2 separate regions of the Homo sapiens genome follow, and region 1 is linked to region 2. Evidence: fine-mapped expression QTL. A gene starts in region 2. The other region holds a variant in brackets. All regions are shown on one strand. Distances are from middle to middle. Region 1 has its middle 12 kb from the start of AHCY. Region 2 holds the start of DYNLRB1 (dynein light chain roadblock-type 1).

The links. PIP is the estimated chance that this variant, and not a neighbour inherited with it, causes the effect.
Region 1: its variant is fine-mapped to the expression of DYNLRB1 in whole blood (TOPMed, PIP 0.96).

Annotation. Positions count from the first base shown.
Region 1 is chr20:34,309,608-34,320,969 of GRCh38, forward strand. It overlaps a transcript of AHCY not described here. Among named protein-coding and RNA genes, the nearest start is that of AHCY, 12 kb to the left of the region's middle. RefSeq lists an enhancer at 1,991-2,589. The variant A/G (reference allele first, on the strand shown) is at 4,734.
Region 2 is chr20:34,511,869-34,523,230 of GRCh38, forward strand. It overlaps DYNLRB1 (dynein light chain roadblock-type 1), which reads left to right and starts at 4,554. Exons shown (of 4, transcript NM_014183.4): 1 at 4,554-4,593. The coding sequence starts at 4,591. RefSeq lists silencers at 816-1,110, 4,446-4,555 and enhancers at 3,576-3,635, 3,746-3,985, 4,374-5,239, 4,906-5,085, 11,070-11,362.

The DNA.
Region 1 (11,362 bases), 200 kb before region 2:
CTGTCTCCACTAAAAATACAAAAATTAGCCGGGCGTGGTGGCAGGCACTTGTAATCCCAGCTACTTGGGAGGCTGAGGCAGGAGAATCGCTTGAACCCAGGAAGGGGAGGCTGCAGTGAGCCGAGATCGTGCCATTGCACTCCAGCCTGGGCTACAAGAGCAAGACTCTGTCTCAAAATAAATAAGTGAATTAATTAATTAAAGAAAGAAAAAAGAGAAAAGAAAAGAGAGAGGAGGAGCAGGACAGAAGGAAGGAGGGAGGGAGAAAAGGAGGTAGGGAGGGAAGGAGGGAGGGAGGAAGGAAGGAAAGAAGGAAGGAAGGAAGGGAAGGAGGGAGGGAAGGGAAGGAAGGAAACAATAGAAGAACCATGGAGGTGGAGGGGTGCCTTCTTAGTGCCAGGTTGGGGGTGAAAGTCCAGGCTCCCTATGTGGCTTGGGGAAATTGAATGATGAATTTTTTTTTTGAGACAGAGTCTCACACTGTTACCCGGGCTGGAATGCAGTGGCGCGATCTTGGCTCACTGCAACCTCCACCTCCCAGGTTCAAGCGATTCTCCTGCCTCAGCCTCCCAAGTAGCTGGGATTACAGGCGCCTGCCACCACGCCCAGCTAATTATTTTTATTTTTATTTTTAATAGAGATGGGGTTTCACTATGTTGGCCAGGCTGGTCTTGAACGCCTGACCTCGTGATCCACCTGCCTTGGCCTCCCAAAGTGCTGGGATTACAGACGTGAGCCACCATGCCCGGCTGATTAATTTTATTTTTAAGTTTACTATCACATGGATAAAAAGTTTACAGTTTAATAACATACTATTGGTAAGAGTGTGGGGAAACAGGCCTCCTCATACTTTGGTTTTGGGATTGTACATTGGCACAACCTTAATGAACAACACTCTGGTAATAACTAACAAGATTACAAACCCGCATGCCCTTTGACCAAGCAGTTCCACTTCTAGGAATTTATTCCAAAGATGTTTGTACACATGAGCAAAATGACGTTAAGAACAAAAGACTGTCCTTCCATGGAAGACTTGTTAAATAAATATTGGTACAGTCCACATGATGGAATATGCAGATAGCCATTTTTTTGTTTAAATGAGCTGTTTATCTAACAATATAGAATGATCTTCAAGATATGGTGGCCCAGTGCGATGGCCCAAGCCTGAGGCCTAAGCGCCACTGCACTCTGCCTGGGCAACAAAGCGAGACCCTGTCCGTATTTTAAAAAAACGACAGTCGGGCGTGGTGGCTCATGTCTGTAATCCCAGCACTTTGGAAGGCTGATTCGGGCGGGTCACCTGAGGTCAGGAGTTCGAGATCGGCCTGGCCAACATGGCGAAATCCCATCTCTACTAAAAATACAAAAATTAGGCGGGCGTGGTGGCACACACCTGTAATCCCAGCTACTCAGTAGGCTGAGGCAGGAGAATCGCTTGAGCCCGGTAGGTTGCAGTGAGCCGAGATTGTGCCACTGCACTCTAGCCTGGGCAACAGAGTGAGACTCTGTCTAAAAAACAAACAAAACAACAACAACAACAAAACCAACAACAAAACATATAATGAAGGACAAAAAGCAAAGTGCAGAACGGTGCGCCTAGTATGCGATTATTTATGTAAAAGAAAGAAAAGAACACACAAACAGGTATTTGCCTATACATGCAGAAAATATACCAGGCTGGATGTACAAGAAACTGCTAACAGTGCTTCCCTGGGGATCCCCGCCCACGCCGCTGAAAGCTGCCCTGGACGTTAACTGTTGATGTCCCTTCTCCAGGTCCAGGCCCCAGTGGAGCTTCTGGCGGGAAGGTCGAAACCCCAGGCAGAAGCAGGTCCCGGTCCCTCCTCCCGACCTTTGTACCTGCCTTTTCCGTGTTTGCTTTTGCAAACAATTAGGTCCTGGGCGCGGAGGGGCGGAGAGGGGGCGGAGAGGGGGCGGAGGGCGCACAAGCCTGCCCTTTGGCCGCGGGGCTTTAGCCTGCCCTAGCTTCAGCATCCCCGCTCGCCTCCCGGCGGTCCTGCGTCTCACTCTGGATTAACTGGAGGCTTCGAGATGGGATAGAGAGGGGTGCAGGCGCTGAGAAAGCCCGCTGATGGGGATGGAGCCGGATTAAGCAGTTCTGTGGAGTTCCTCCCTTCTTGTCCACCCCGCTAGGGGTCTCTCCTTTCCCGCTGTATCCACGCCCCTCCCTCCAGGCCCCCTGGGCCCACCTCGAAGTCACCGCTGGGCTGGGGAGTACAGAGGTGGGGGACTTCTTAGAGACCCTGGGACAGGGCCCCCCTCTCTCCCTCAATCCTTCTCATCCCACGCGGCTCCGCTGTGAGTCGGGCGTCCCAGGAGCTGCCGGCCCACCCATCCGCGGGTTTCTTCCGTTGGGGGAGCCCTCCAGACTCGTAGAATATAAGAGAGCGCCCCTCCCTAGCCGCGGGCCATCTCTAAGCGACAGGCTTTAAGAGGCACCCCGAAAGGGGGATGTGAGGTGGTGTGGTTCTATATCATTATATCGAAATCATCTGATTATGTGCCTGTCCCATTACTTCCAGGAGGGACAGAAACCTGTATGGCTTTGCCAGCTGCTGTGTCCCCAGGGTCCAGCTCAGTGCCTGGCACACAGACTGCACACAATATTTGGGAATGAATTAATGTTCCCAGATGTCTGCCCCGGAACCCACGCTGTGGTGCCCCTTGGCTTCAGCCCACAGTCCTGGCTCTCCTCAGGGTGGAGCCAGGGAGTCCCCTAATCCAGGTCTCTGACGTCCCCCGCTGAGGCTGGATCGTTCCCCAGTGGGGCTGGATGGCCTCTGGGTTCACTTCCCAGCCTTGTCTGAGCTTCCACGCCCCTTTTATCCTAATATTTGCTAAGAGCCTCGTCCAGGGACCTTAGGAGTCACACAGCCAGGGGTTCTGCCCCTGCCCTTCATTTCTCAGATGATAGAAAAGCAAAAGGAACACTCTGAGAACTTGTAATGGGGAGGAGTGGGGGGTTGGTCCAGTCTGACGGGGCGGGGGCAGGGTGGGAGACGTCCTTGGAGCGAGATCTGAGGCAGAGGAGCTCAGTCCACAGAAAGGGAGCACGGGCTCCACGCTGCAAGAGTAGGGAGCTGTAAGGTGCCCTCCCCAGACGGCTCCATTTTGCCCACCTTCCTTTGCGGATAGCACCCCTGGACCTCCGAGGTCAGCCTGTGCCCTGCAGCTGGAGTCGCCCTTGACTCCACTGTGCCAGGAGAGGGCACCCTGCTCCCAGCTTTGGCTTCAGACTGCTGCAGTGCAAACTCTTCCCTCCAGGGGCAGGATTTGGAGCGCTGTGATGATAACCTCCCAGCTGCCCTGGGAGAAAGCAAAGTACAGCTTATCGCTCCCTCCCATAGGAAGAAACTGAGGTTCAGAGAAGAGCAATGAATGTTGCTAGTAAGTGGTCTTTGGACTTGTTTTGAAGGGGCTTTAGCCCTTGGAAGCATTTGTCGGGATGTTTTTGTTCTGTTCTGTTTTGTTGAGCCAGGGTGTCACTCTTGTTCAGGCCGGAATGCTATGGCACCATCAGAGATCACTGTAGCCTCAAACTCCTGAGCTCAAGCAATCCTCCTGCTTCAGCCTCCCCAGTAGCTGGGACTACAAGCATGCATCACCACATCCAGCTTTTTTTTTTTTTTTTTTTTTTTTTTTTTGAGACAAAGTCTCACTATGTTGCTCAGGCTGGTCTCAAACTCCTGGGGTCAAGCAATCCTTCCACCTCGGCCTCCCAAGTGCTGGGACTACAGGCATAAGCCACATTGTTGGGACTGCTGGGTGTTGACAGTGACACCCAGGATAATGATACTAGTCCAAATTTATTATATCCAATGCTCCACACACAATTCTAAGCTCTTTGAACTTCCCTGTAAGGTAGATGTTGCCCTACTTTATAGATGCTACCCTATAAGGTAGGTACCCATTTAACACATGGAAAAACTGAGGCTCCTAGTGGTTGATTTGCCCACAGTTAGGAAGCACCAATGCTGTCTGACTCCAGAGTCGCTGCTGGTAACCACTGGGCTACCCTTCCTGCAATCATGCTCCCTGCTGCAACCCCCATGCCAGACATGTTCATTTGAGTGTGCTAGAGGCAAGGACAAAAAAACAGGACAAGACAAAGTCCCTGCTCCCATGGAGTTCCATTCAGTGAACATGTTTACACCTACAGATACATCCATACAAACCTTCAAACACATACTCATTCACACATCCCACCATCACACACGAATACTCATGCTCATGCACCTATGTACATACATACTACAGAAATAAGGCCAGGTGCGGTGGCTCATGCCTGTAATCCCAGCACTTTGGGAGGCCAAGGCAGGTGGATCACTGAAGGTCAGGAGTTCGAGACCAGCCTGGCCAACATGGTGAAACCCGTCTCTACTAAAAATACAAAAATTAGCGGGGCATGCTGGTACACACCTGTAGACCCAGCTACTTACTTAGAAGGCTGAGGCAGGAGAATAGCTTGAACCCAGCGGAAGAGGTCGCCGTGAGCCAAGATCGCACCACTGCACTCCAGCCTGGGCGACACAGCGAGACTCCGTCTCAAACACACACACATGTATATCCACACTCATACACTTCATACATACATTCACACATTCTCAAGTACTCACACATATTCAGACCCTCACCTTTGCACACACTCTGTTAGGTTAGACAAAAATCAGCTCTTTTTATTTTTTAAAAAATTTTTGTAGAGTAAGGGTCTC[A/G]CTATGTTGCCAATACTGATCTCAAACTCCTGGGCTTAAGCGATCCTCCCACCTTGGCCTCCCAAAGTGCTGGGGTTACAGGCGTGAGCCACCACATCCGGCTAAGATCATCCCTATAACATTGACCTGTGCTTTAACTGCCAGATACCTGGAGCCCAAGATTCAGCTAGTAATCTGAGAGCTGTTTGTGACACCACTCCCTTCCTCTTCCCTTCCATTGATCCCACAAACATTGTTAACTGCCCACTCAGGGCAGGCAACACAGATGACTCAGACCTGGGCCCTGCTCTCAAGGAATTTCCTAGCCAGTGGGGAAAAAAGACTCACCAATGTTCACGACACAGATCATGGATGCCAGGGCAGGTCAGAGCAGAGAGTCCAAGGTGGAGGGAGAGGGTGACTCACTAGGCCTAGGGGCTGTGGAAACCTCTCAGAGGAAGAGGCGTCCACCAAAGTCTTCAAAATGAGTCAGGTAGAGAGAGAACTGTGCAGGTGTGGGAATCACATTTGCAAAGTCATGGCAGAGTAAGAAAGTGGGGACAAAATAGCTGGGCACAGAGGCTCACGCCTGTAATCCCAGCGCTTTGGGAGGCCGAGGCAGGAGGATCACCTGAGGTCAGGAGTTCAAGACCAGCCTGGCCAACATGGCGAAACCCTATCTCTACTAAAAATATGAAAATTAGCCAGGCATGGTGGCGGGCGCCTGTAATCCCAGCTACTTGGGAGGCTGAGGCAGGAGAATCACTTGTATCTGGGAGGTGGAGTTTTTAGTGAGCAGAGATCATGCTACTACACTCCAGCCTGGGCGACAGAGCGAGACTCTGTCTCAAATAAATAAATAAATATAAAAACTGGGGGAGTTTGCATGGAGCCCCATATTTCCAGCTTCTCTTGAGAAAATTATCTAGCAACTAGACTTATGTTGTCATAGCAATGGGTGGGTGAGCTAAATGTTAGCTGCCTTCTTTGAATGATGCATAAGTTCTCGAGGCCAACATATGTCCCCATCCCTGGCCCATATCGGTTGTTGATCCCTGACTTGAAGTTTTCTCAGTGGACCAGGATCATCCCAATGAGCATTGGTTGTCATTAAATAACCTTGGTTCTCATTTGCATAGCACCAACTGAGTCATTTTCCTCTACATTCAATGTCCTCACGTTGCAGGATTCTTGTGTTGCTTATGATTTACCTATCTCCTCCTTTTGTCTTCTTCCTATTGCTGATGTCAGTGAGGCCACCTCACATACCCTGCTCTCTTCCTAATGGAGTTGAACCCATCCAGCCAAAAACAGGAGTAGGATCCACAGGAAGGGGCTACTCCAGGAACCACTAACACTGTCAATTGCCAATTTCCAGGAACTAGGAGGGTTTTCTACCTTATTCCAGAAATACGGGGAAAAGAGGTGTTCTGAGTTAAATGATGGCCCTCCTCCCAAAGGATATGTTCACCTAGAATCTGCAAATGTGACCTTATTTGGAAGAAAAGTCTTTGTGGATGTAATTAAGTTAAGGATTTTGAGTTGAGACAATTCTGGATTAAGGTGTCCCCTAAATCCAGCATCAAGTGTCCTTACAACACAAGGAAAGGGAAGAAGACAGACACAGAGAAGACCACACGGTGAAGACAGAAGCAGATTGAGTGATGCATCTACAAGCCAAGGAAACCTGGGATTGCCAGCAGTCACCAGAAACCAGGATAGAAGCAGGGAACAGACTCTCCTCAGAGCCTCCAGAAGGAACCCACCCTGCCAATGCCTTGATTTTGGACTTCTGGCTTCCAGAACTGTGAGAGAATAAATTTCTGTTGTTGTAAGCCACCAAATGCGTGGTACTTCATAATGGCAGCTCTGGGAGTCTAATACAGATGGAAAGGGGAAGAGAAGATGGGGGAGATAGGTGGGGCGGAAGCCTGATCTTGTGACTCTGGTGACTCAGTTTCCCTTGTCCTGCCTTGGAGGTGGAGAATATGGAGAAGGCTGAAGTGCTAAGGGCAACAGCAAGAGTGGCTCAGGCGGTCATCCCAACCAGCACCCCAGGGCTCCAATGCCTCCCAGGAAATGAGTCATCTTGGAGAGCCATGGGTTTCTTCTCAAATGCCTTTTATTGTAAGCACATGGAGGAAGTGTTCTAAGGCAACAGCTCTTGAGAGGATGGTGGAGTGAGCCTTTAGGGAGGCAAATCAGCCAGGGCTGGCATCCCAAGTTCAGGAGTTCACACCAGGTGCCCATTCCAGGCCTGGGCAGAGGGGCAACCCAAAAGGGGAAGGGGCGATGGGCAGGGAACCGTAGGAGCAGAGAGAAGGAGGAGGGCAGTAGTGAGGCTTCTCAAGAAATAAGAGTTGGATCCTTCGGCCAGTGCTGCCTGTTTCTCCCTTCTCGCACCTCCTCATATTCATAAGCATTTATTCAGTGCCAGGACTGTGTTCACAATTAATATTTCAGTTTCCCCTTCTATAATATATAGAATGCTGAATATGATAGTCCTGAAATGTCTTTTTAGGACATTGTGTGGTTCTAGTTGCCAACCTGGATCTTAAAATGCAAACATTGACAATAACCCCTTAAACTTCAGCTTCAAGGATGGCTCCTCATAGCCTCTGTGTGAGTGGGCAGGGCTGGGATCATCAGACAGTGCATTTTACAGAAGAGAAAACTGAGGGATGAGCACCTGCCTAAAGTACCACAGAGTCAACTGTGGATGAGAGCCTGGGGCCTGGAGAGCTCATGCCCATATAGGGAGATTGCTGTGCCGGTGTTCACTTGCTATGAAGGAGCCCATCATGGGGAGTTGTGGTCTGAGATCCTGGACCTTGGGGGTAAAAGCAGAGGGTCCAGAAAGGGACAAAGATTGGCATCACCTCCCCATCATGGTCTGAGGCTGATTGTGGGTAATTCTCTGCCCTGGCCTCAGTGATTCTTTGCTGCATAACAAACCACCCATATTTATTGGCATAAAACAATTATTTATTTATTTATTTATTTATTTATTATTTTCTGAGACGGAGTCTCGCTCTGTCACCCAAGCTAGAGTGCAGTGGCGCAATGTCAGGTCACTGCAACCTCCGCCTCCCGGGTTTAAGTGATTCTCTGCCTCAGCCTCCCAAGTAGCTGAGATTACTGGTGCCTGGTTCATTTTTGTATTTTTAGTAGGGATGGGGTTTCACCATCTTGGCCAGGCTGGTCTTGAACTCCTGACCTCACGATCCACCTGCCTTGGCCTCCCGAAGTGTTGGGATTACAGGCATGAGCCACCAGGCCTGGCCACAACAATCATTTATTATTCATTTCTTTTGTTTCTTGGGGAGGGAGCATTGATTGGACTCAGCTAGGCCATTCTTGCTCAAGGTCTCTCATATGGCTGCAGTCTGGTGGTGGCTGGGCTGGAGTCAGCTTGAAGATCTCCTGATAGCCAGTTGATGCTGGCTACCTGGGACCTCAGATGGGGCTTCCAGCAAGGATATGATATGTGGATTCTCCATGTGGCCTGGGCTTCCACACAGCATGGTAGCTGGGTTCCAAGGGTTCCAAGGATAAGCATCCTAAGAGAGAGAGCCAGGCATAAGTTGTATCACCATTTATGACCTAGACTTTGAAGTCATGTGGCATCACTTCCATCATATTTAGTTGAGGTAGTCACAAAGCCCCACCCAAGTTCAAGAGAAGGGGCCATACACTATTGTCTTAGTTCATTTATGTTGCTATAAAGGAATACCTGAGGCTTGGTAACTTATCAAGAAAAGTGGTTTTGAAGCAGCCTTGTTGTCTGGGGGGTGATACCTGAGGTTTGTTGTCTCACAGCTGAGGAAATAAAGGACACGGACACACAAAGAGTGAGGTTAAGAGCAGAAGTTTAATAGGCGGAAGAAAGGGAATAGCTTTCTGCTGGAGAGAGGGGTCCCAGAGAAATGGGTTGCCAGATCCATGGTGAAATGCAAGGGAGTTTATAGATGCCTGGTGAGGAGACAGTGTCTGATTTACATAGGGTGTGAAAGATTGGTTGGACCAGGTATGCCATTTGCATAGGGCACAAATTTCTGGTAGCCCCCACCCTTATCTTTTACTATGCAGGTAGGTTCTTTGCCTGGCCTGTTACCCATGTTGCCCATTCCTTTACTGTACACGTGATAACAAAGGAAAGATGGAGCCTCCCTGTTGGATATCCCTGGTGCCTAGGTAGCCCAATTTTATTGGCACAGCTGCCAGCATTTCCCCATGCAAGCTTCCAGCTTGCTTATCTATGTTTGCAGCTCAATTTTTCAGGCTTCTCTTTGTTAGAAAAAAATAATTTCTTGAGCTGCTTTTTGTTAAAAGGGATGCTCTGTAGAGGACTGTTTTGCCCTCACTATCTGCCTAAATAATTCCTTTCTACCTGCTGTATCAGTTTATTGGCTCATGATTCTGCAGACTGTACAAGAAGCATGGTGCCCACATCTGCTTCTGGTGATTGGTGAGGGCTTCAGGCTGCTCCACTCATAGCAGAAGGTAAAAGGGAGCCATCCTGTGCAGACATCACACGGTGAGAGAATGGATGGAGGAGAGAGGGGGAAGGTGCCAGGTTCTTTTAACAATCAGCTCTTGTGGAAATTAATAGAGCGAGAACTTCCTCATTAACATGAGAATGGCAACATGCCATTCATGAGGGATCCACCCCCATGACCCAAATACCTCCCATTAGGCCCCACCTCTAACATTGGAGATCAACTTTCAACATAAAGTTTGAGAAGACAAACATCCAAAGTGCAGCAACTAGCTGTTGATGGGGGAGTGACAAGGTTCTAGAAGATGTAAATCAATAAATGGTTGGGAGCAGTGGCTCACACCTGTAATCCCAACACTTTAGGAGGTCAAGTCTGGCAGATTGCTTGAGCCCGGGAGTTTAAGACCAGCCTGGGAAACATGGCAAAACTTGTCTTTGCAAAAATTATCTAAGCATGGTGGCACCTACCTGTAAAGATAATCTTTACCTAATGTAAAGATAATTGAAGTAGGAGGATCACCTGAGCCCGGGAGGTCAAGGCTACTGTGAGCTGTGATCATGCCACTGAACTCCAGCTTGAGAGACAGAATAAGACCCTATCTCAAAAAAAAAAAAAAAAGGTTCAGTGGCTCATGCCTGTAATCCCAACACTTTGGGAGGTCGAAGTGGGTGGATCACTTAAGGTTGAGAGTTTGAGACCAGCCTGGCCAACATGGTGAAACCCCGTCTTTACTAAAAATACAAAAATTAGTTGGGTGTGGCCGGGCGTGGTGGCTCAAGCCTGTAATCCCAGCACTTCGGGAGGCTGAGGCGGGTGGATCACGAGGTCAGGAGATCGAGACCATCATGGCTAACACAGTGAAACCCCGTCTCTACTAAAAATACAAAAATTTAGCTGGGCATAGTGGCAGGCGCCTGTAGTCCCAGTTACTTGGGAGGCTGAGGCAGGAGAATGGTGTGAACCCAGGAGGTGGAGCTTGCAGTGAGCCGAGATCATGCCACTGCACTCCAGCCTGGGCGACAGGGCCAGACTCCGTCTCACAAAAAAAAAAAAAATTAGTTGGGTGTGGTGGTGAGTGACTGTAATCCCAGCTACTCGGGAGGCTGAGGCAGGAGAATCGCTTGAACTCGGGAGGCAGAGGTTGCAGTCAGCTGAGACTGTGTCACTGCACTCCAGCCTGGGTGACACAGCAAGACTCCGTCTCAAAAAAAAAAAAAGATGTAAGTCAATGAAAATGACCAAGCCAAGTCTCAATCATTTTAGGAGGTTTCTTTGCCAAAGTTAAGGATGTGTACCAAGGAGGCAGGTTTATGCCTTTCTCGAAAGGTGATTTTGAGGACTTCAGTATTTACAGGGGAAGGGGTGGATATTGGGGGAGAGGAAGAAATTTTTTAAAGATGTGGCTAGATAAGAGACAAATGATTACATCCTTTTGAATCTTTGATCAGCCTTTCACTGAATACACAATTTATATGTGAGGTGGGGTAGAGAAATAGTAACTTATGCCTCTGTCTGGCTCAGTGGATCTGCATTTTTATATAAGATAATGTAAACAATAGGGCAGAGGAAGCAATCAGATATGCGTTTGTCTCAGGTGAGCACAGGGCTGCCTTTGAGTTCTATCTGTCCTTTGTCAAAAGCCTGTGAATATAATGATCAATTTACATTGCCACAGTGAAATTCAACAGAACTGTTTTAGGGTAAAGATGGGCAAATTGTGAGAGAGGTATGTAGCTTTTGTCTTTGTAGCTTTCTGATTTAGGAACCAAATGGGAGATGGGAGATGGGTTTGCGTGACCCAGTTCTCAGCTTGACTTTTCCCTTTGGCTTAGTGAGTTTGGGGTCCCAAGATTTTGCTTTTTCACAAAGAGCATGAGGGATGGGAGATGTTGTGACCATTTCTGAAAAATATACTTTGTCGCACCAGATAAGGGGGTGAGCTCTGGAGTCAGATGCTTGGATTAGAATCCTAGCTTTACTATTTAATGCCTATGAGTCTCAGTTTCCTCATCTATGAAATGGTACTGATAGTAGCACTGCTTTCAGGGGATTACTGTGAGAATTGAGTGAGATAAAGACCCAAAGTGCAGGATATCCAGCCCACGACCTATGTTCAGTGGGTATCACTGTTGTTGGAACAGGTCATCATAC
Region 2 (11,362 bases):
TGATTACCCTTATCTTGTTTCCTGCTAAATCATGGAGGTTTGGGGACTTCCTTCAGACCCCCAGTAAACTTGTTTGTGGAGGCCTTCAGACCCCCTCAATAAGTTCCTTCAGACCCCCAATAAAACTTGTTTAATCCTAAATGGGTTCCTTTGTTATCTTGTCATGCTTCAAGGCCCAGAAAAGGCCTGGGCAAAACCCTTGGTGGCCTTTTGTTACATTCTAGCCTTTGCATAAGGGCCCTCACTCTTTCAGCTTTTAATATTTAACTTAACCACTCAGTGCTGAAACAGTTGTTATGGAGGCCTGCGTTATTGAGATCTGGCCTGCCACGGTACGGGTAGAAAAAAACTAGAAAGAGCTGTTGCAGATGAGACTGGATTTGGTGCCCATGTTGAAGATGAAGATATCTGCAGGGGCCATCAACCAACATAAAGGCCTCCATATGAATTGCTTTTCTGAGACAACTAAAAGACCGGGACCACAGGCATGAGTGCTGAGTAGAGAACCACCAACTAGCTAGCTGTCAAGACTGTTACCAAGACTGTTCTCAACAAGCTGACCTGGTTACCAGCGTCAGTAGAACTTTGTCTTATTAGGAAGCTCAGGTGATTATGCTCTCATTTAAAACAGAACCAGTGGAGAGAGACTAAGGGAAGAGGAATTTTTTAATACGGCTGATCTAACATGGACTAGAGGACAAAAACTGCAGGCCCCTCCCAGGTCCTGAGTAGTTAGTAGACCCTATCCTGTTTATTCTGTCCAATGGAAGCTGCTAGAATGCTCTAGTTTCATTGTGGCTTAGAATAAGGGGAAAAATATGCCCCGCTAAGTGAGGGTCAATGGTCAGTAAGTAATTGTTCTTACTGGCCATTGGCTCTCATCCCAAACCCTACAAATCATCAAACTGGGACTCAGCTGTGACTGACTGGCTGTTCTCTGGACTTTTTAAGTGTCTGTCTCACATTATGTAACTCCAGTACAGGAGCTGCTCTCTCTCCCAGCCCATTTCAGTTGTCAATTCTTCCATGTTCATAGGACTCCTTTGTGATCAGGATATCTGGAGTGAGGAGCCAGGGGAATATTCCTGGTTGGCAAGGAAAAGAGGGCCTTAAACATAAATCCCAGAAGGACACTGTTGATCACTTATGCACAGGGGTCTGTTAATAAGCAAAGAGTGGCTATGGACAAGAGGATTTCCTCAAAGCACCCCACAGGGAAGGACCTTGACAATTTGTAGTCATACTTGAAAGATCACTAAAAACAGCCCTCCTGTTATTTTTCTTCTAATTCAGACCTGTTGTTCTATTTGTCTTCCATATCATAGCAACCAGTACCACACCCATATTCATTTAATACCAAAACAACTGTCAACATTTATCACTATGTGCAGGACACTGGTAGATATGCTATGTGCAGTGTCACTTAGTCTTCCTGTTATTGGTAATGATTATCTCTGTTTTACAAGAAAATAGAGGCTCAAAATGATTGAATCATGTCCACAACTATTAAGTAGAAAGAATACAGGCTGGAATCCAGGATGGTTTGACTCTAAAGCATGCATACTTTACCATTTTTGTTGTACTGCTACTTACCACAACACTGGGAGTCGAATGTGACCAATTTTGCCATTCCATTTAATTAGTCTCCAAATCCTATCTATCCCCAAAACTTTTTTTTTTTGAGATGGAGTCACGCTCTGTCGCCCAGGCTGGAGTGCAGTGGCGCAATCTCGGCTCGCTGCAACCTCCACCTCCCGGGTTCAAGTAATTCTGCCTCAGCCTCCCTAGTAGCTGGGATTACAGGTGCCCATCACCAATGCACGGCTAATTTTTGTATTTTTAGTAGAGACGGGGTTTCCCCACGTTGGCCAGGCTGGTCTCGAACTCCTGACCTCAGGTGATCCGCCCGCCTTGGCCTCCCAAGTGTTTGGATTACAGGCATGAGCCACCGCGCCTGGCCCCAAAACTTTTAAAAATCCGTTCTCTCAGAGCTGACAACATTGCCACAGCCCACGTGCTTCCTCCCTAATCTGGCTGACCATAACAGCATCCTGTCTTCATTTTTCCATCCTCCTCGCTCCAGTATATCTTCTGTACTACCTCAGGATTATCTGTGGAAGACCTGTCTCATGCCTCCTCTACCTAAAATTTTACAGTGGTTTCTCCATTACCGCAGAATAAAACTTTTTTTTCTTTTTTTTGAGACGGAGTCTTGTTCTGTCGCCCAGGCTGGAGTGCAGTGGGGCGATCTTGGCTCACTGCAACCGCCGCCTCCTGGGTTCACGCGATTCTCCTGCCTCAGCCTCCCGAATAGCTGGGGTTACAGGCGCACACCACCACCCCCGGCTAATTTTTTGTGTATTTTTAGTAGAGGGGCTTTCACTATGTTGGCCAGACTGGTCTCGAACTCCTGACCTCGTGATCCGCCCACCTTGGCCTCCCAAAGTGCTGAGATTACAGGTGTGAGCCACTGCGCCGGGCCAAAACTCTAAGCCTGCCACTCCGGGACATTCTTGGTCCTATTCCAGCTCCTCCTTCATTCTCATTTTGGCTCCTGTCACATGAACTATTGGCCATTCTCTTTTTTGCTTCTGGGATTGTAATCTGTTAAAATCCTTTCACTCCTCTCAGTCTGGTTCTCCATGGGCAAGACAGTGGTGATTCTTCCAGTGCTTATCTTCCAGGATGTTTTAGGGTCCAGTCTCTGCAGCACTTCTTCCCCTTGCTAAATGCTTTCCTAATGTTTCCAGCATTCAATAGAAATTCCTTTGGATCCAGTCCTTTTAAAAATTTATTTTGAAATAATTTTACATTTACAGAGCTGTTGCAAAAATGGTTAAGAGTTCCTGCACAGTCTTCACCCAGCTTTCTCCAATGTTATGATCCCATATAACCATGCTAGAATTACCAAAACTAATAAATTAACACTGGTAAAAATAACACTAAACTACAGCCCTTACTCAGATTTCACCAATTTTCCCACCCATGTTATTTTTCTTTCTCCTTACTCCTCTAATCTGTGACAGTTCCGCATTCATTCCTTGCTTTCATGACTTTGAGATTTTGGGGGGCGGGGGCGGGGTACAGGTATCTTGTAGAACATCCCTCACACTGGATTTAGTGAAATTTTCTCATGGTTTAAGGCTGGGAGTTTTTGTGGAAAATGACTCGGAGGTGATGTGCCCTTAACGCATTTTTATCGGGGCACACGGCATCAATATCTCCCCTTGCCAGTAATACTAACTTTGATCTGGTTACGGTGGTGTCTGCTAGGTTTCTTCGCAGTAAAGTCAATCCTCTTAACATGCAGACACTCCTGGAAGGAGAACCAAATCCTTCCTCACTGAAGAGCAGCTACTGTGGAATGAAACTTTGGAGTTAGATCATCGTTGAATCCAGCAAGCTACAGTGCCTGGGAGAAACAGCATTTATAAAGTATCGAGGTTACCGATACTTCCCTGAAGCTACCGGAGATAACGTTATGTGCGTGTTCAGCACAGTAATGTGGCACAGGGTTCACTAAACGGCAGCATGTTTTAACAGAAGTTATTTACTCCTAGAGGACCCAGAAACGTTTGCGGCCTGCCGGAACAGGACAACATAGGGCTCTGGGAAGAGTCCCCCTTTCAGAGGTGAGAACAAGACAGAACACACAGATGTGAAGTGCCTTCTGCTAGGTAACGCGAGGCGGGGCTGAGCTCGGATTCTAAAGACTCCCAGGCCAGCCCTAACCAATTCATCTCCGAGCTTGCACGGCATCTTACCCGGAGACTCGAGGTACCTGACTCCAGCCCCACCCCAGGCCTGCCCGATCCCGAAGCGCATTTTGGCCCTGGGCCTCTCTCTGGCTCAGTCTGGGCGCAAAGCGGGTCTCAGCAACCGTCCCACTTGCCTTCATACCCTCCCACCACGCTCCACTCAGGGACTCCAGAACCAGCTTAGACCTCCATTGAGAGCTGAAAGCCTCTTCCGATACCGAGAACCAGCACTGAAAGCCTCTTCCGATACCGAGAACCAGCATGGTTTTTGTTTTGTTTTGTTTTAGTCAGGGTCTCTTGCTCTGTCGCCCAGGCTGGGGTGCAGTGGCGCAATCTCGGCTCACTGCAGCCTCGAACTCCTGGTCAGGCGATCCTCCTACCTCAGCCTCTGGAGTAACTGGAACTACACGAGCGCGCCACCACGCCCGGCTAATTTTGTTTATTTTTTAGTAGAGAAGGGGTCTCTCCATGTTGCCCAGGCTGGTCTCGAACTCTTGGGCTCAAGCAATCCTTCCGACTCGGCCTCCCAAAGTGCTGGAATTACAGGCGTAAGCCACCGCGTCCAGCCAGAACCAGCATCTTTTCTGCACGGCTGGAGTTGGGAATTTTCCACAGCTTAGCGCACTGCTCCTTAGCTTTTCGCTTTGCCACAGTGGAAAGCAGATTTTCCAAGAATCCTGGCGGAGCCAAGATCGGCTCGCCCGCCCCCGCCTCACGCTGGCTCCTGATAGGCAGCTAGAGCTGTCCGTTTTGACAGAAACCTTTGCGCAGGCGCAGAAAGGCACAGGACTCGCTAAGTGTTCGCTACGCGGGGCTACCGGATCGGTCGGAAATGGTGAGCGTGCGCCGGGGTCTTGTGGCTGGCGGCCGCCCACCACCCCACGCCAGGCCTTCAGTCTTCCGAGGATGAGGGGATCTCAGAGCTCCGGACAGGGAATCGGTGGTGGCTGGGCGTGGCCGGGCCCGGGCCCCAGCCGACTTGAGGGTGGAACCCGGCGGCGGAGGCCTCTAAAGCCTGACCGAGGCGGGGCCGCCGGATCCCGCTGCCCCTTGACCGGAAGCGGGAGCCCAGCCTCGGCCAGGAAGAGATGATGGGCGAGGGGTGGGCGGCGGCCCTGCAGCCTAGAGTTTTGGGGCCTTGGTGCGCGATGGCAACCCTGGCAACGTTTCCCGGGAGCTCAGTTTGTGGCAGGCTCTGCCAAGCACTTTATGTATCTTGTATTTCCTCCGCCTCCTCCCAGCTCTGTGAGGTAGATACAATCTTTAGTCCCATTTTGTTATACATATCTGTTATTCAGCGCCCCGAGAAGCCAAGTGCTTTGCCCCAGGAAATAGTGGAGATGGATTTGAACCCTAGAAGCTTGACGGCCGCCACTCTGTCGGCGTGGTTCTTTCTAGCCGCTGGGACTGGGTGCCAGAGTCAGGAACGGGCGGGGTCTGCTCTTGGGGATCCCAAAGCTTGCTTTCTACCTTGCTTGCTGCAGCTGTGGGTTCTCAACGCCGTTACAGGTTTTGTGTTTGTAATCCTCACAGCTTGGGCAAAATTTGAAAAAGTTTCAAATTTTAAGCCATGTGAATATATTACTTTTTCAAAAATCTTATTTAGAAATCTAGAGCTTGTAATAAAAAAATTGAAAAAAGAAACCGTGTCATCACCTAGAGGCAACCACTTACAGTAGTCATATGACTTCTAGTCTTTTTTGCTTGTTTTTGGTTTATACAGTTTAGCCCCTATTGAATGTGCAATTGTGGGTTCTGTGTTTTTCATTATTACACCACAATATCTCCACATCATTACAAACATGTAATAATGCTTCAAATATGTATAACTTCATTTTTCACATCACTTCTTAAGCTGTAAAAAAAATTGATATATAATAGTTGTACACATTTATGTTGTAGATATACATGTAATATTTTGATACATGCATATGATGTGTAATGATCAAATCAGGCTATATTTATTATAGAATATCCATCACCTTAAACATTCATTATTTCTTTTTTTTTTTTTTTTTTTGAGATGGAGTGTGTCTCTGTCGCTCAGGCTGGAGTGCAGTGGCACCATCTTAGTTCACTGCCACCTCCGCCTCCCAGGTTCAAGTGATTCTCCCGCCTCAGCCTCCCGAGTAGCTGGGACTACAGGCGCCCACCACCACGCCCAGCTAATTTTTTGTATTTTTAGTAGAGACGGGGTTTCACCGTGTTAGTCCGCCTCAACACGGTGGTCTCGATCTCCTGACCTCGTGATCTGCTCGCCTCAGCCTCCCAAAGTGCTGGGATTACAGGCGTGAGCCACCACGCCTGGCCCACATTTTCTTTATCCATTTACCTATTGATGGACGCTAATTCCATAATTTAGCTATTATGAATAGTGCTGCAATATGAACATGAGGATGTAGGGATGCCTTTGATGTACTAATTTCCGTTCCTTTGAATAAATACCCAGTAGTGGTATTGCTGATTTATGGTAGGTTTTTTTTTTCGTTTTTGTTGTTGTTTTTGTTTTGTTTTGTTTTTTCGATGCCTTTGTCGAAAATCAGTTGGCCGTAAATAAGTGGATTTATTTCTGGGTCCTCTATTCTATTCCATTGGTCTGTGTTTTATACCAATACCATGCTCTTTTGGTTACTATACCTTTCTGGTATATTTTGAAATCAGGTAGTGTGATACCTCAAGCTTTGTTCTTTTCGTCCAGGCTTCTTTTGGCTTTTCTGAGTCTTTTGTGGTTCCATACGAATTTTAGGATTGTTTACAGGTAATACTTGCACACAGTAAAAAAATAAATGATGTAAAAGGATCTAAGTGAAAAATAAAATTCCCACTCTCCTAACCCCCAGTCTCAGTCTCTCCTCCTTTAGAAACAACCATTGTTAGTTTCTTTTTTTTTTTTTCTTGCAAACTTGACCCTCCTGGGCTCAAGTGATCCTCCTGCCTTAATTCCCCAAGTATCTGGGACTACTGGTGCACGCCACCACACCCTGCTAATTTTTTTGTATTTTTTTTTTGTAGAGTTGGGGTTTTGCCATGTTGCCCAGGCTGGTCTTGAACTCCTGGGCTCAAGTGATTCACCCACGTTGGCCTCCCAAAGTGTTAGGATTACAGGCGTGAGCCACCACACCCAGCTGTTAGTTTCTTATGCATCTATACAAGCACTTATATGGCCCCCCTTTTTCTTACTTAAACTGTAGCTTTCTAGAACCTGTATTATGCTACTCCGTGGTTATACTCATAAAAGCAATGCAAATTTAGATGCCTAGTTTAACTTTTTTTTTTTTTCTTTTGAAACAGAGTCTTGCCCTTTCGCCCAGGCTGGAGTGCAGTGGTGTGATCTGAGCTCACTGCAACCTCTGCCTCCCGGGTTCGAGTGATTCTCCTGCCTCAGCCTCCGGAGTAGCTGGGACTGCAGGAGCATGCCACCATGCCTGGCTAATTTTTCTATTTTTGGTAGAGACAGGGTTTTTTTTCTATTTTTAGTAGAGACAGGGTTTCACCATGTTGACCAGGCTGGTCTCAAACTCATGACCTCAGGTGATCCGCCCACCTCCGCCTCCAAAAATGCTGGGATTATGGGCGTAAACCACCATGTATGTTAACAATTTGAAGCAGTACCAGAGGATATAATATAGAAAGTTTATGTGGTCCCCATCTTACTACCCCGTGGCAACTTCTGTTGGCAGTTGGGTGTGTTTCCTTCCAGATGTGTTTGGTGCATAAGCACATTTATGTATAAGCTGTTTATTAGATGAAACTGGAATATATATATATTTGTATATGTTAACTTTACTTTAAGGCTGAAGTGGAGAGATCGCCTGAGCCCAGGAGGTCAAGGCTACAGTGAGCCGTGACTGCACCACTGCACTCCACCCTGGGTGAGAAAAAAATAAGAGAAAACAGAAGTTGACTTTAAGATATATATGTATATATCTTATTCTGCAACTTGTTCTGTTCACTTAAAAATATCACACATTTTTCTGTGTTATTATATGCAGGTCCACTTCATTCTTTTTAAGGTCTGTATCGTATCCTAGTCCCATATGTACATTTAGGTGGTGTATAGTTTTTTTATTCCAGACACTGCTGCAGTAACTGTTCTTGTCTTTTTTGCACTCATGCTAGTGGTTATGTAGGATAGATTTCTACAAGTGGCACTTTTGGCTTGCATATTTTACATTTTAGGTGGAAACTGACCTTTAGAATAATGATATAAAAATCATCTATAATTGGCCGGACACAATGGCTGACGCATATAATCCCAGCACTTTGGGAGGCCAAGGTGGGCAGATCACTTGAGGTCAGGAGTTGGAGACCAGCCTGGGCAACATGGTGAAACTCTGTCTCTACTAAAAATACGAAAAGTAGCCGGAAGCCGTGCATCTGTAATTCCAGCTGCTCAGGAGGCTGAGGCACTAGAATCGCTTGAACCCGGGAGGCGGGGGTTGCAGTGATCCGAGACCAGGCCAGTGCACTCCAGCCTGGGCAACAGAGCAAGACTCTGTCTCAAAATAAATAAATAAAATTAAAAAATAATCACATATAATTCTCCTCGTCCAGTTTCACTGTGCCACATAACTATTTTCATCTTTGTATGTTCTCCTTCCTCTTTTGTTCACATATGCATATTTTCCAAGATAATGCATGCTGAGTTTTGGGGGGATTTTTTTCTTTTTTTGTTGTTTTAATATCCAAAAACATTTAACCTTGTTGTCATATCATCTTTGTGATTAACTACTTAGTGACTACATAATACTCGGTGAAATAGTTGTACCATAATTGGCCAAATATCTTACCTGTGTACATTTGGGTTGCTCCCATTTCTTTTTGGTTTGTTTGTTTTAGAGATGGAGTCTCACTCTGTTGCCCAGACTGGAGTTCAGTGGCTCAATCTCAGCTCACTGCAACCTCTGCCTCCCAGGTTCAAGTGATTTTCCTGCCTCAGCCTCCTGAGTAGCTGGGATTAACAGGTGTGCATCATGACGCCCAGCTAATTTTTGTATTTTTTAGTAGAAACAGGGTTTCGCCATGTTGGCCAGGCTGGTCTCAAACTCCTGACCTCAGGTGATCCGCCTGCCTCAGCCTCCCAAAGTGCCAGGATTACAGGCATGAGCCACCATACCTGGCTGCTTCCATTTCTTAATTAGTAGAAATAGTGCTGTGATGATGCTTCTGTGAATATCTTGTTTTGTTTCATTTTAACTTACTTATTAGATTATTTCCTCAGGATAAAATTCTTAGGAAAATAATTTCTGAGGTGGAAGGACCAGTGCTTTTATGGTTCTTGCAATATATTGTCCTGTAGCTTTGTCAAGATTGTATTGCCCTTGCACCTGCCAGTTTTGTAATAACAATGCCAGCATTTAAAAATAAACCTCAGCATTGCTATAATTTTTCATTTCTGTCTTTTTTTTTTGAAATGGAATCTCACTCTGTTGCCCAGGCTGGAGGGCACGATCTCAGCTCACTACAAACTCTGCCTCCCAGGTTCAAGCAATTTTCCTGCCTCAGCCTCCTGAGTAGCTGGGATTACAGGCCCATGCCACCATGACGGCTAATTTTTGTATTTTTAGTAGAGACAGGGTTTCCCCATGTTGGCCAGGCTGGTCTCAAACTCCTGACCTCAAGTGATTCACCCACCTCAGTTTCCCAAAGTGCTGAGATTACAGGTGTGAGCACCACGCCCAGCTGAATTTTTCATTTGTTTGTGAGGGATGATGACCATGGTTTGATGTGATTGTAATTTCTCGTAGGCATATTTTCTACTAGTATTCTTTTGTGCACTACCTACTAGAGACTTGCTATTGTTCTTAGTCATTTTGTGTTTTTTTTTTATTTATTTTGTCTGTTATATTTGATGCAAATACTTTTCTATCCTGTTAGATTAGTTATTCTTATACAGAAGTTTTATGTTTAGTGGTCAAATTGGTCATAGTTCTTTGTCAGTCATTTGCTTCCAGTGGTCATCCCTCCTATGCTGAGCCAATGGATCCTCCTGGATCTTTATTGCTGCTTGTTTTTCCATGTGTCAGGAATGTGCATCTGGGAACTAGAGAATTGGGGAACCTTGTCTCCATCATCCCATTGCCCAGAGTGCATTTCTTTCTCATCATTTGATTCTTGGCTTAAAGATGACATACTTATGGCCGAGAATGGTGGCTCACGCCTGTAGTCCCAACAGTTTGGGAGGCCAAGGCAGTAGATCACTTGAGCCCAGGAGTTCAAGACCAGCCTGGGCAACATGTCGAAACCCCATCTCTACAAAAAATTAGCTGGGTTTGGCAGTACACATCAGTAGTCCCACGTGTTCGGGAGGCTGAAGTGGGAGGATCACTTGAGCCTGGGAGGTCAAGGCTGCAGTGAGCCATGATCGAACCATGGCACGCCTGGGTGACAGAGTGAGACCCTATCTCAAAAAAAAAAAAGATTACATCTCCTCAGGTGTTCCTGACCACATTAGCCAGAGTAGCATCCCTTGCCCCACAGCCTAGTCCCTGTATCCTGCAAGAATCTTGCTCACTTGTTTAAGTCTCTTTCACCAGAATGTGAGCTCCCTGAGGGCAGGGACCTCCTCAGTTGTGGTCACCAGTATATTCAGCTCTTCTGTTGACCTGCAGTGTGTTCTTGGGCAAAACCCTTCTCCTTTCCAAACCTGTTTCCCCATCACTAACATGGAGATCATACTAACCCATGAATGGGAGTTTCAGAAGAGAGCATGTGTCTGAAAGCAATATATGACCCATAGTAGGCGCTGAGTAGGGAAATTATACCTATGTGTCCTCCCATTCCTGATAGATGTGTGAGATGTGTGTTTACTTTTCTTTTTTCTTTCTTTCTTTTTTCTTTTTCTTTTTTTTTTTTTTTTTTTTTTGATGAGTCTTACACTCTGTTTTCCAGGCTGGAGTGCAATGGCGCGATCATGGCTCACTGCAGCCTCGGCCTCCTGGGCTCAGGCAATCCTTTCACCTCAGCCTCCCAACTAGCTGGGACTGCAGGCACACGACACCACGCATGGTTAATTTTTTTTATCTTTTGTAGAGACGAAGCTTCACCATGTTGCCCAGGCTGGTCTCAAACTCCTGGGCTCAAGCAGTCTACCTGCTTTGGTCCCCCAAAGTGCTGGGATTACAGGCATGAGCCACTGTGCCCAGCCCATGTTTACTTTTAAACAGCCAGATCTTAGTATCTGGTTCTCGTTGAGTTTCAGATCACCTAAACCTTAGCTCTTTTTCACACTGTGGACTGTGAGGCCATGTCCCCCTCCTGTACTTAAAAAGGTTGATTTCGTGAAACATAGTTGCAGAAATGCTTTTTATTTGTTCCTTCAGTATTTATTGAGCCTATCCTATGCGAGGTACTGGGGCTATAAAGTCTGGTCTGGTTTCCTGATTCCAGGGTGCCTTGCGTCTGGAGGAGGAGATGAACGTGACCTAAACAGTTGCACTGCATTGTGGTCAGTGCTGCGAAGGCTGGGGGCCTCGGTGCCCAGTAGAGGGGCTGATGTCAGAGAAGCCTCCTGCGGGCTCTGGAGCTGAGTCCAAAGGGTTGGGAGGTAGTTACATCAAGCAGTGAGTGAAGGAGGGAAGCTTGTTTCCTTCAGACCGAGAGCA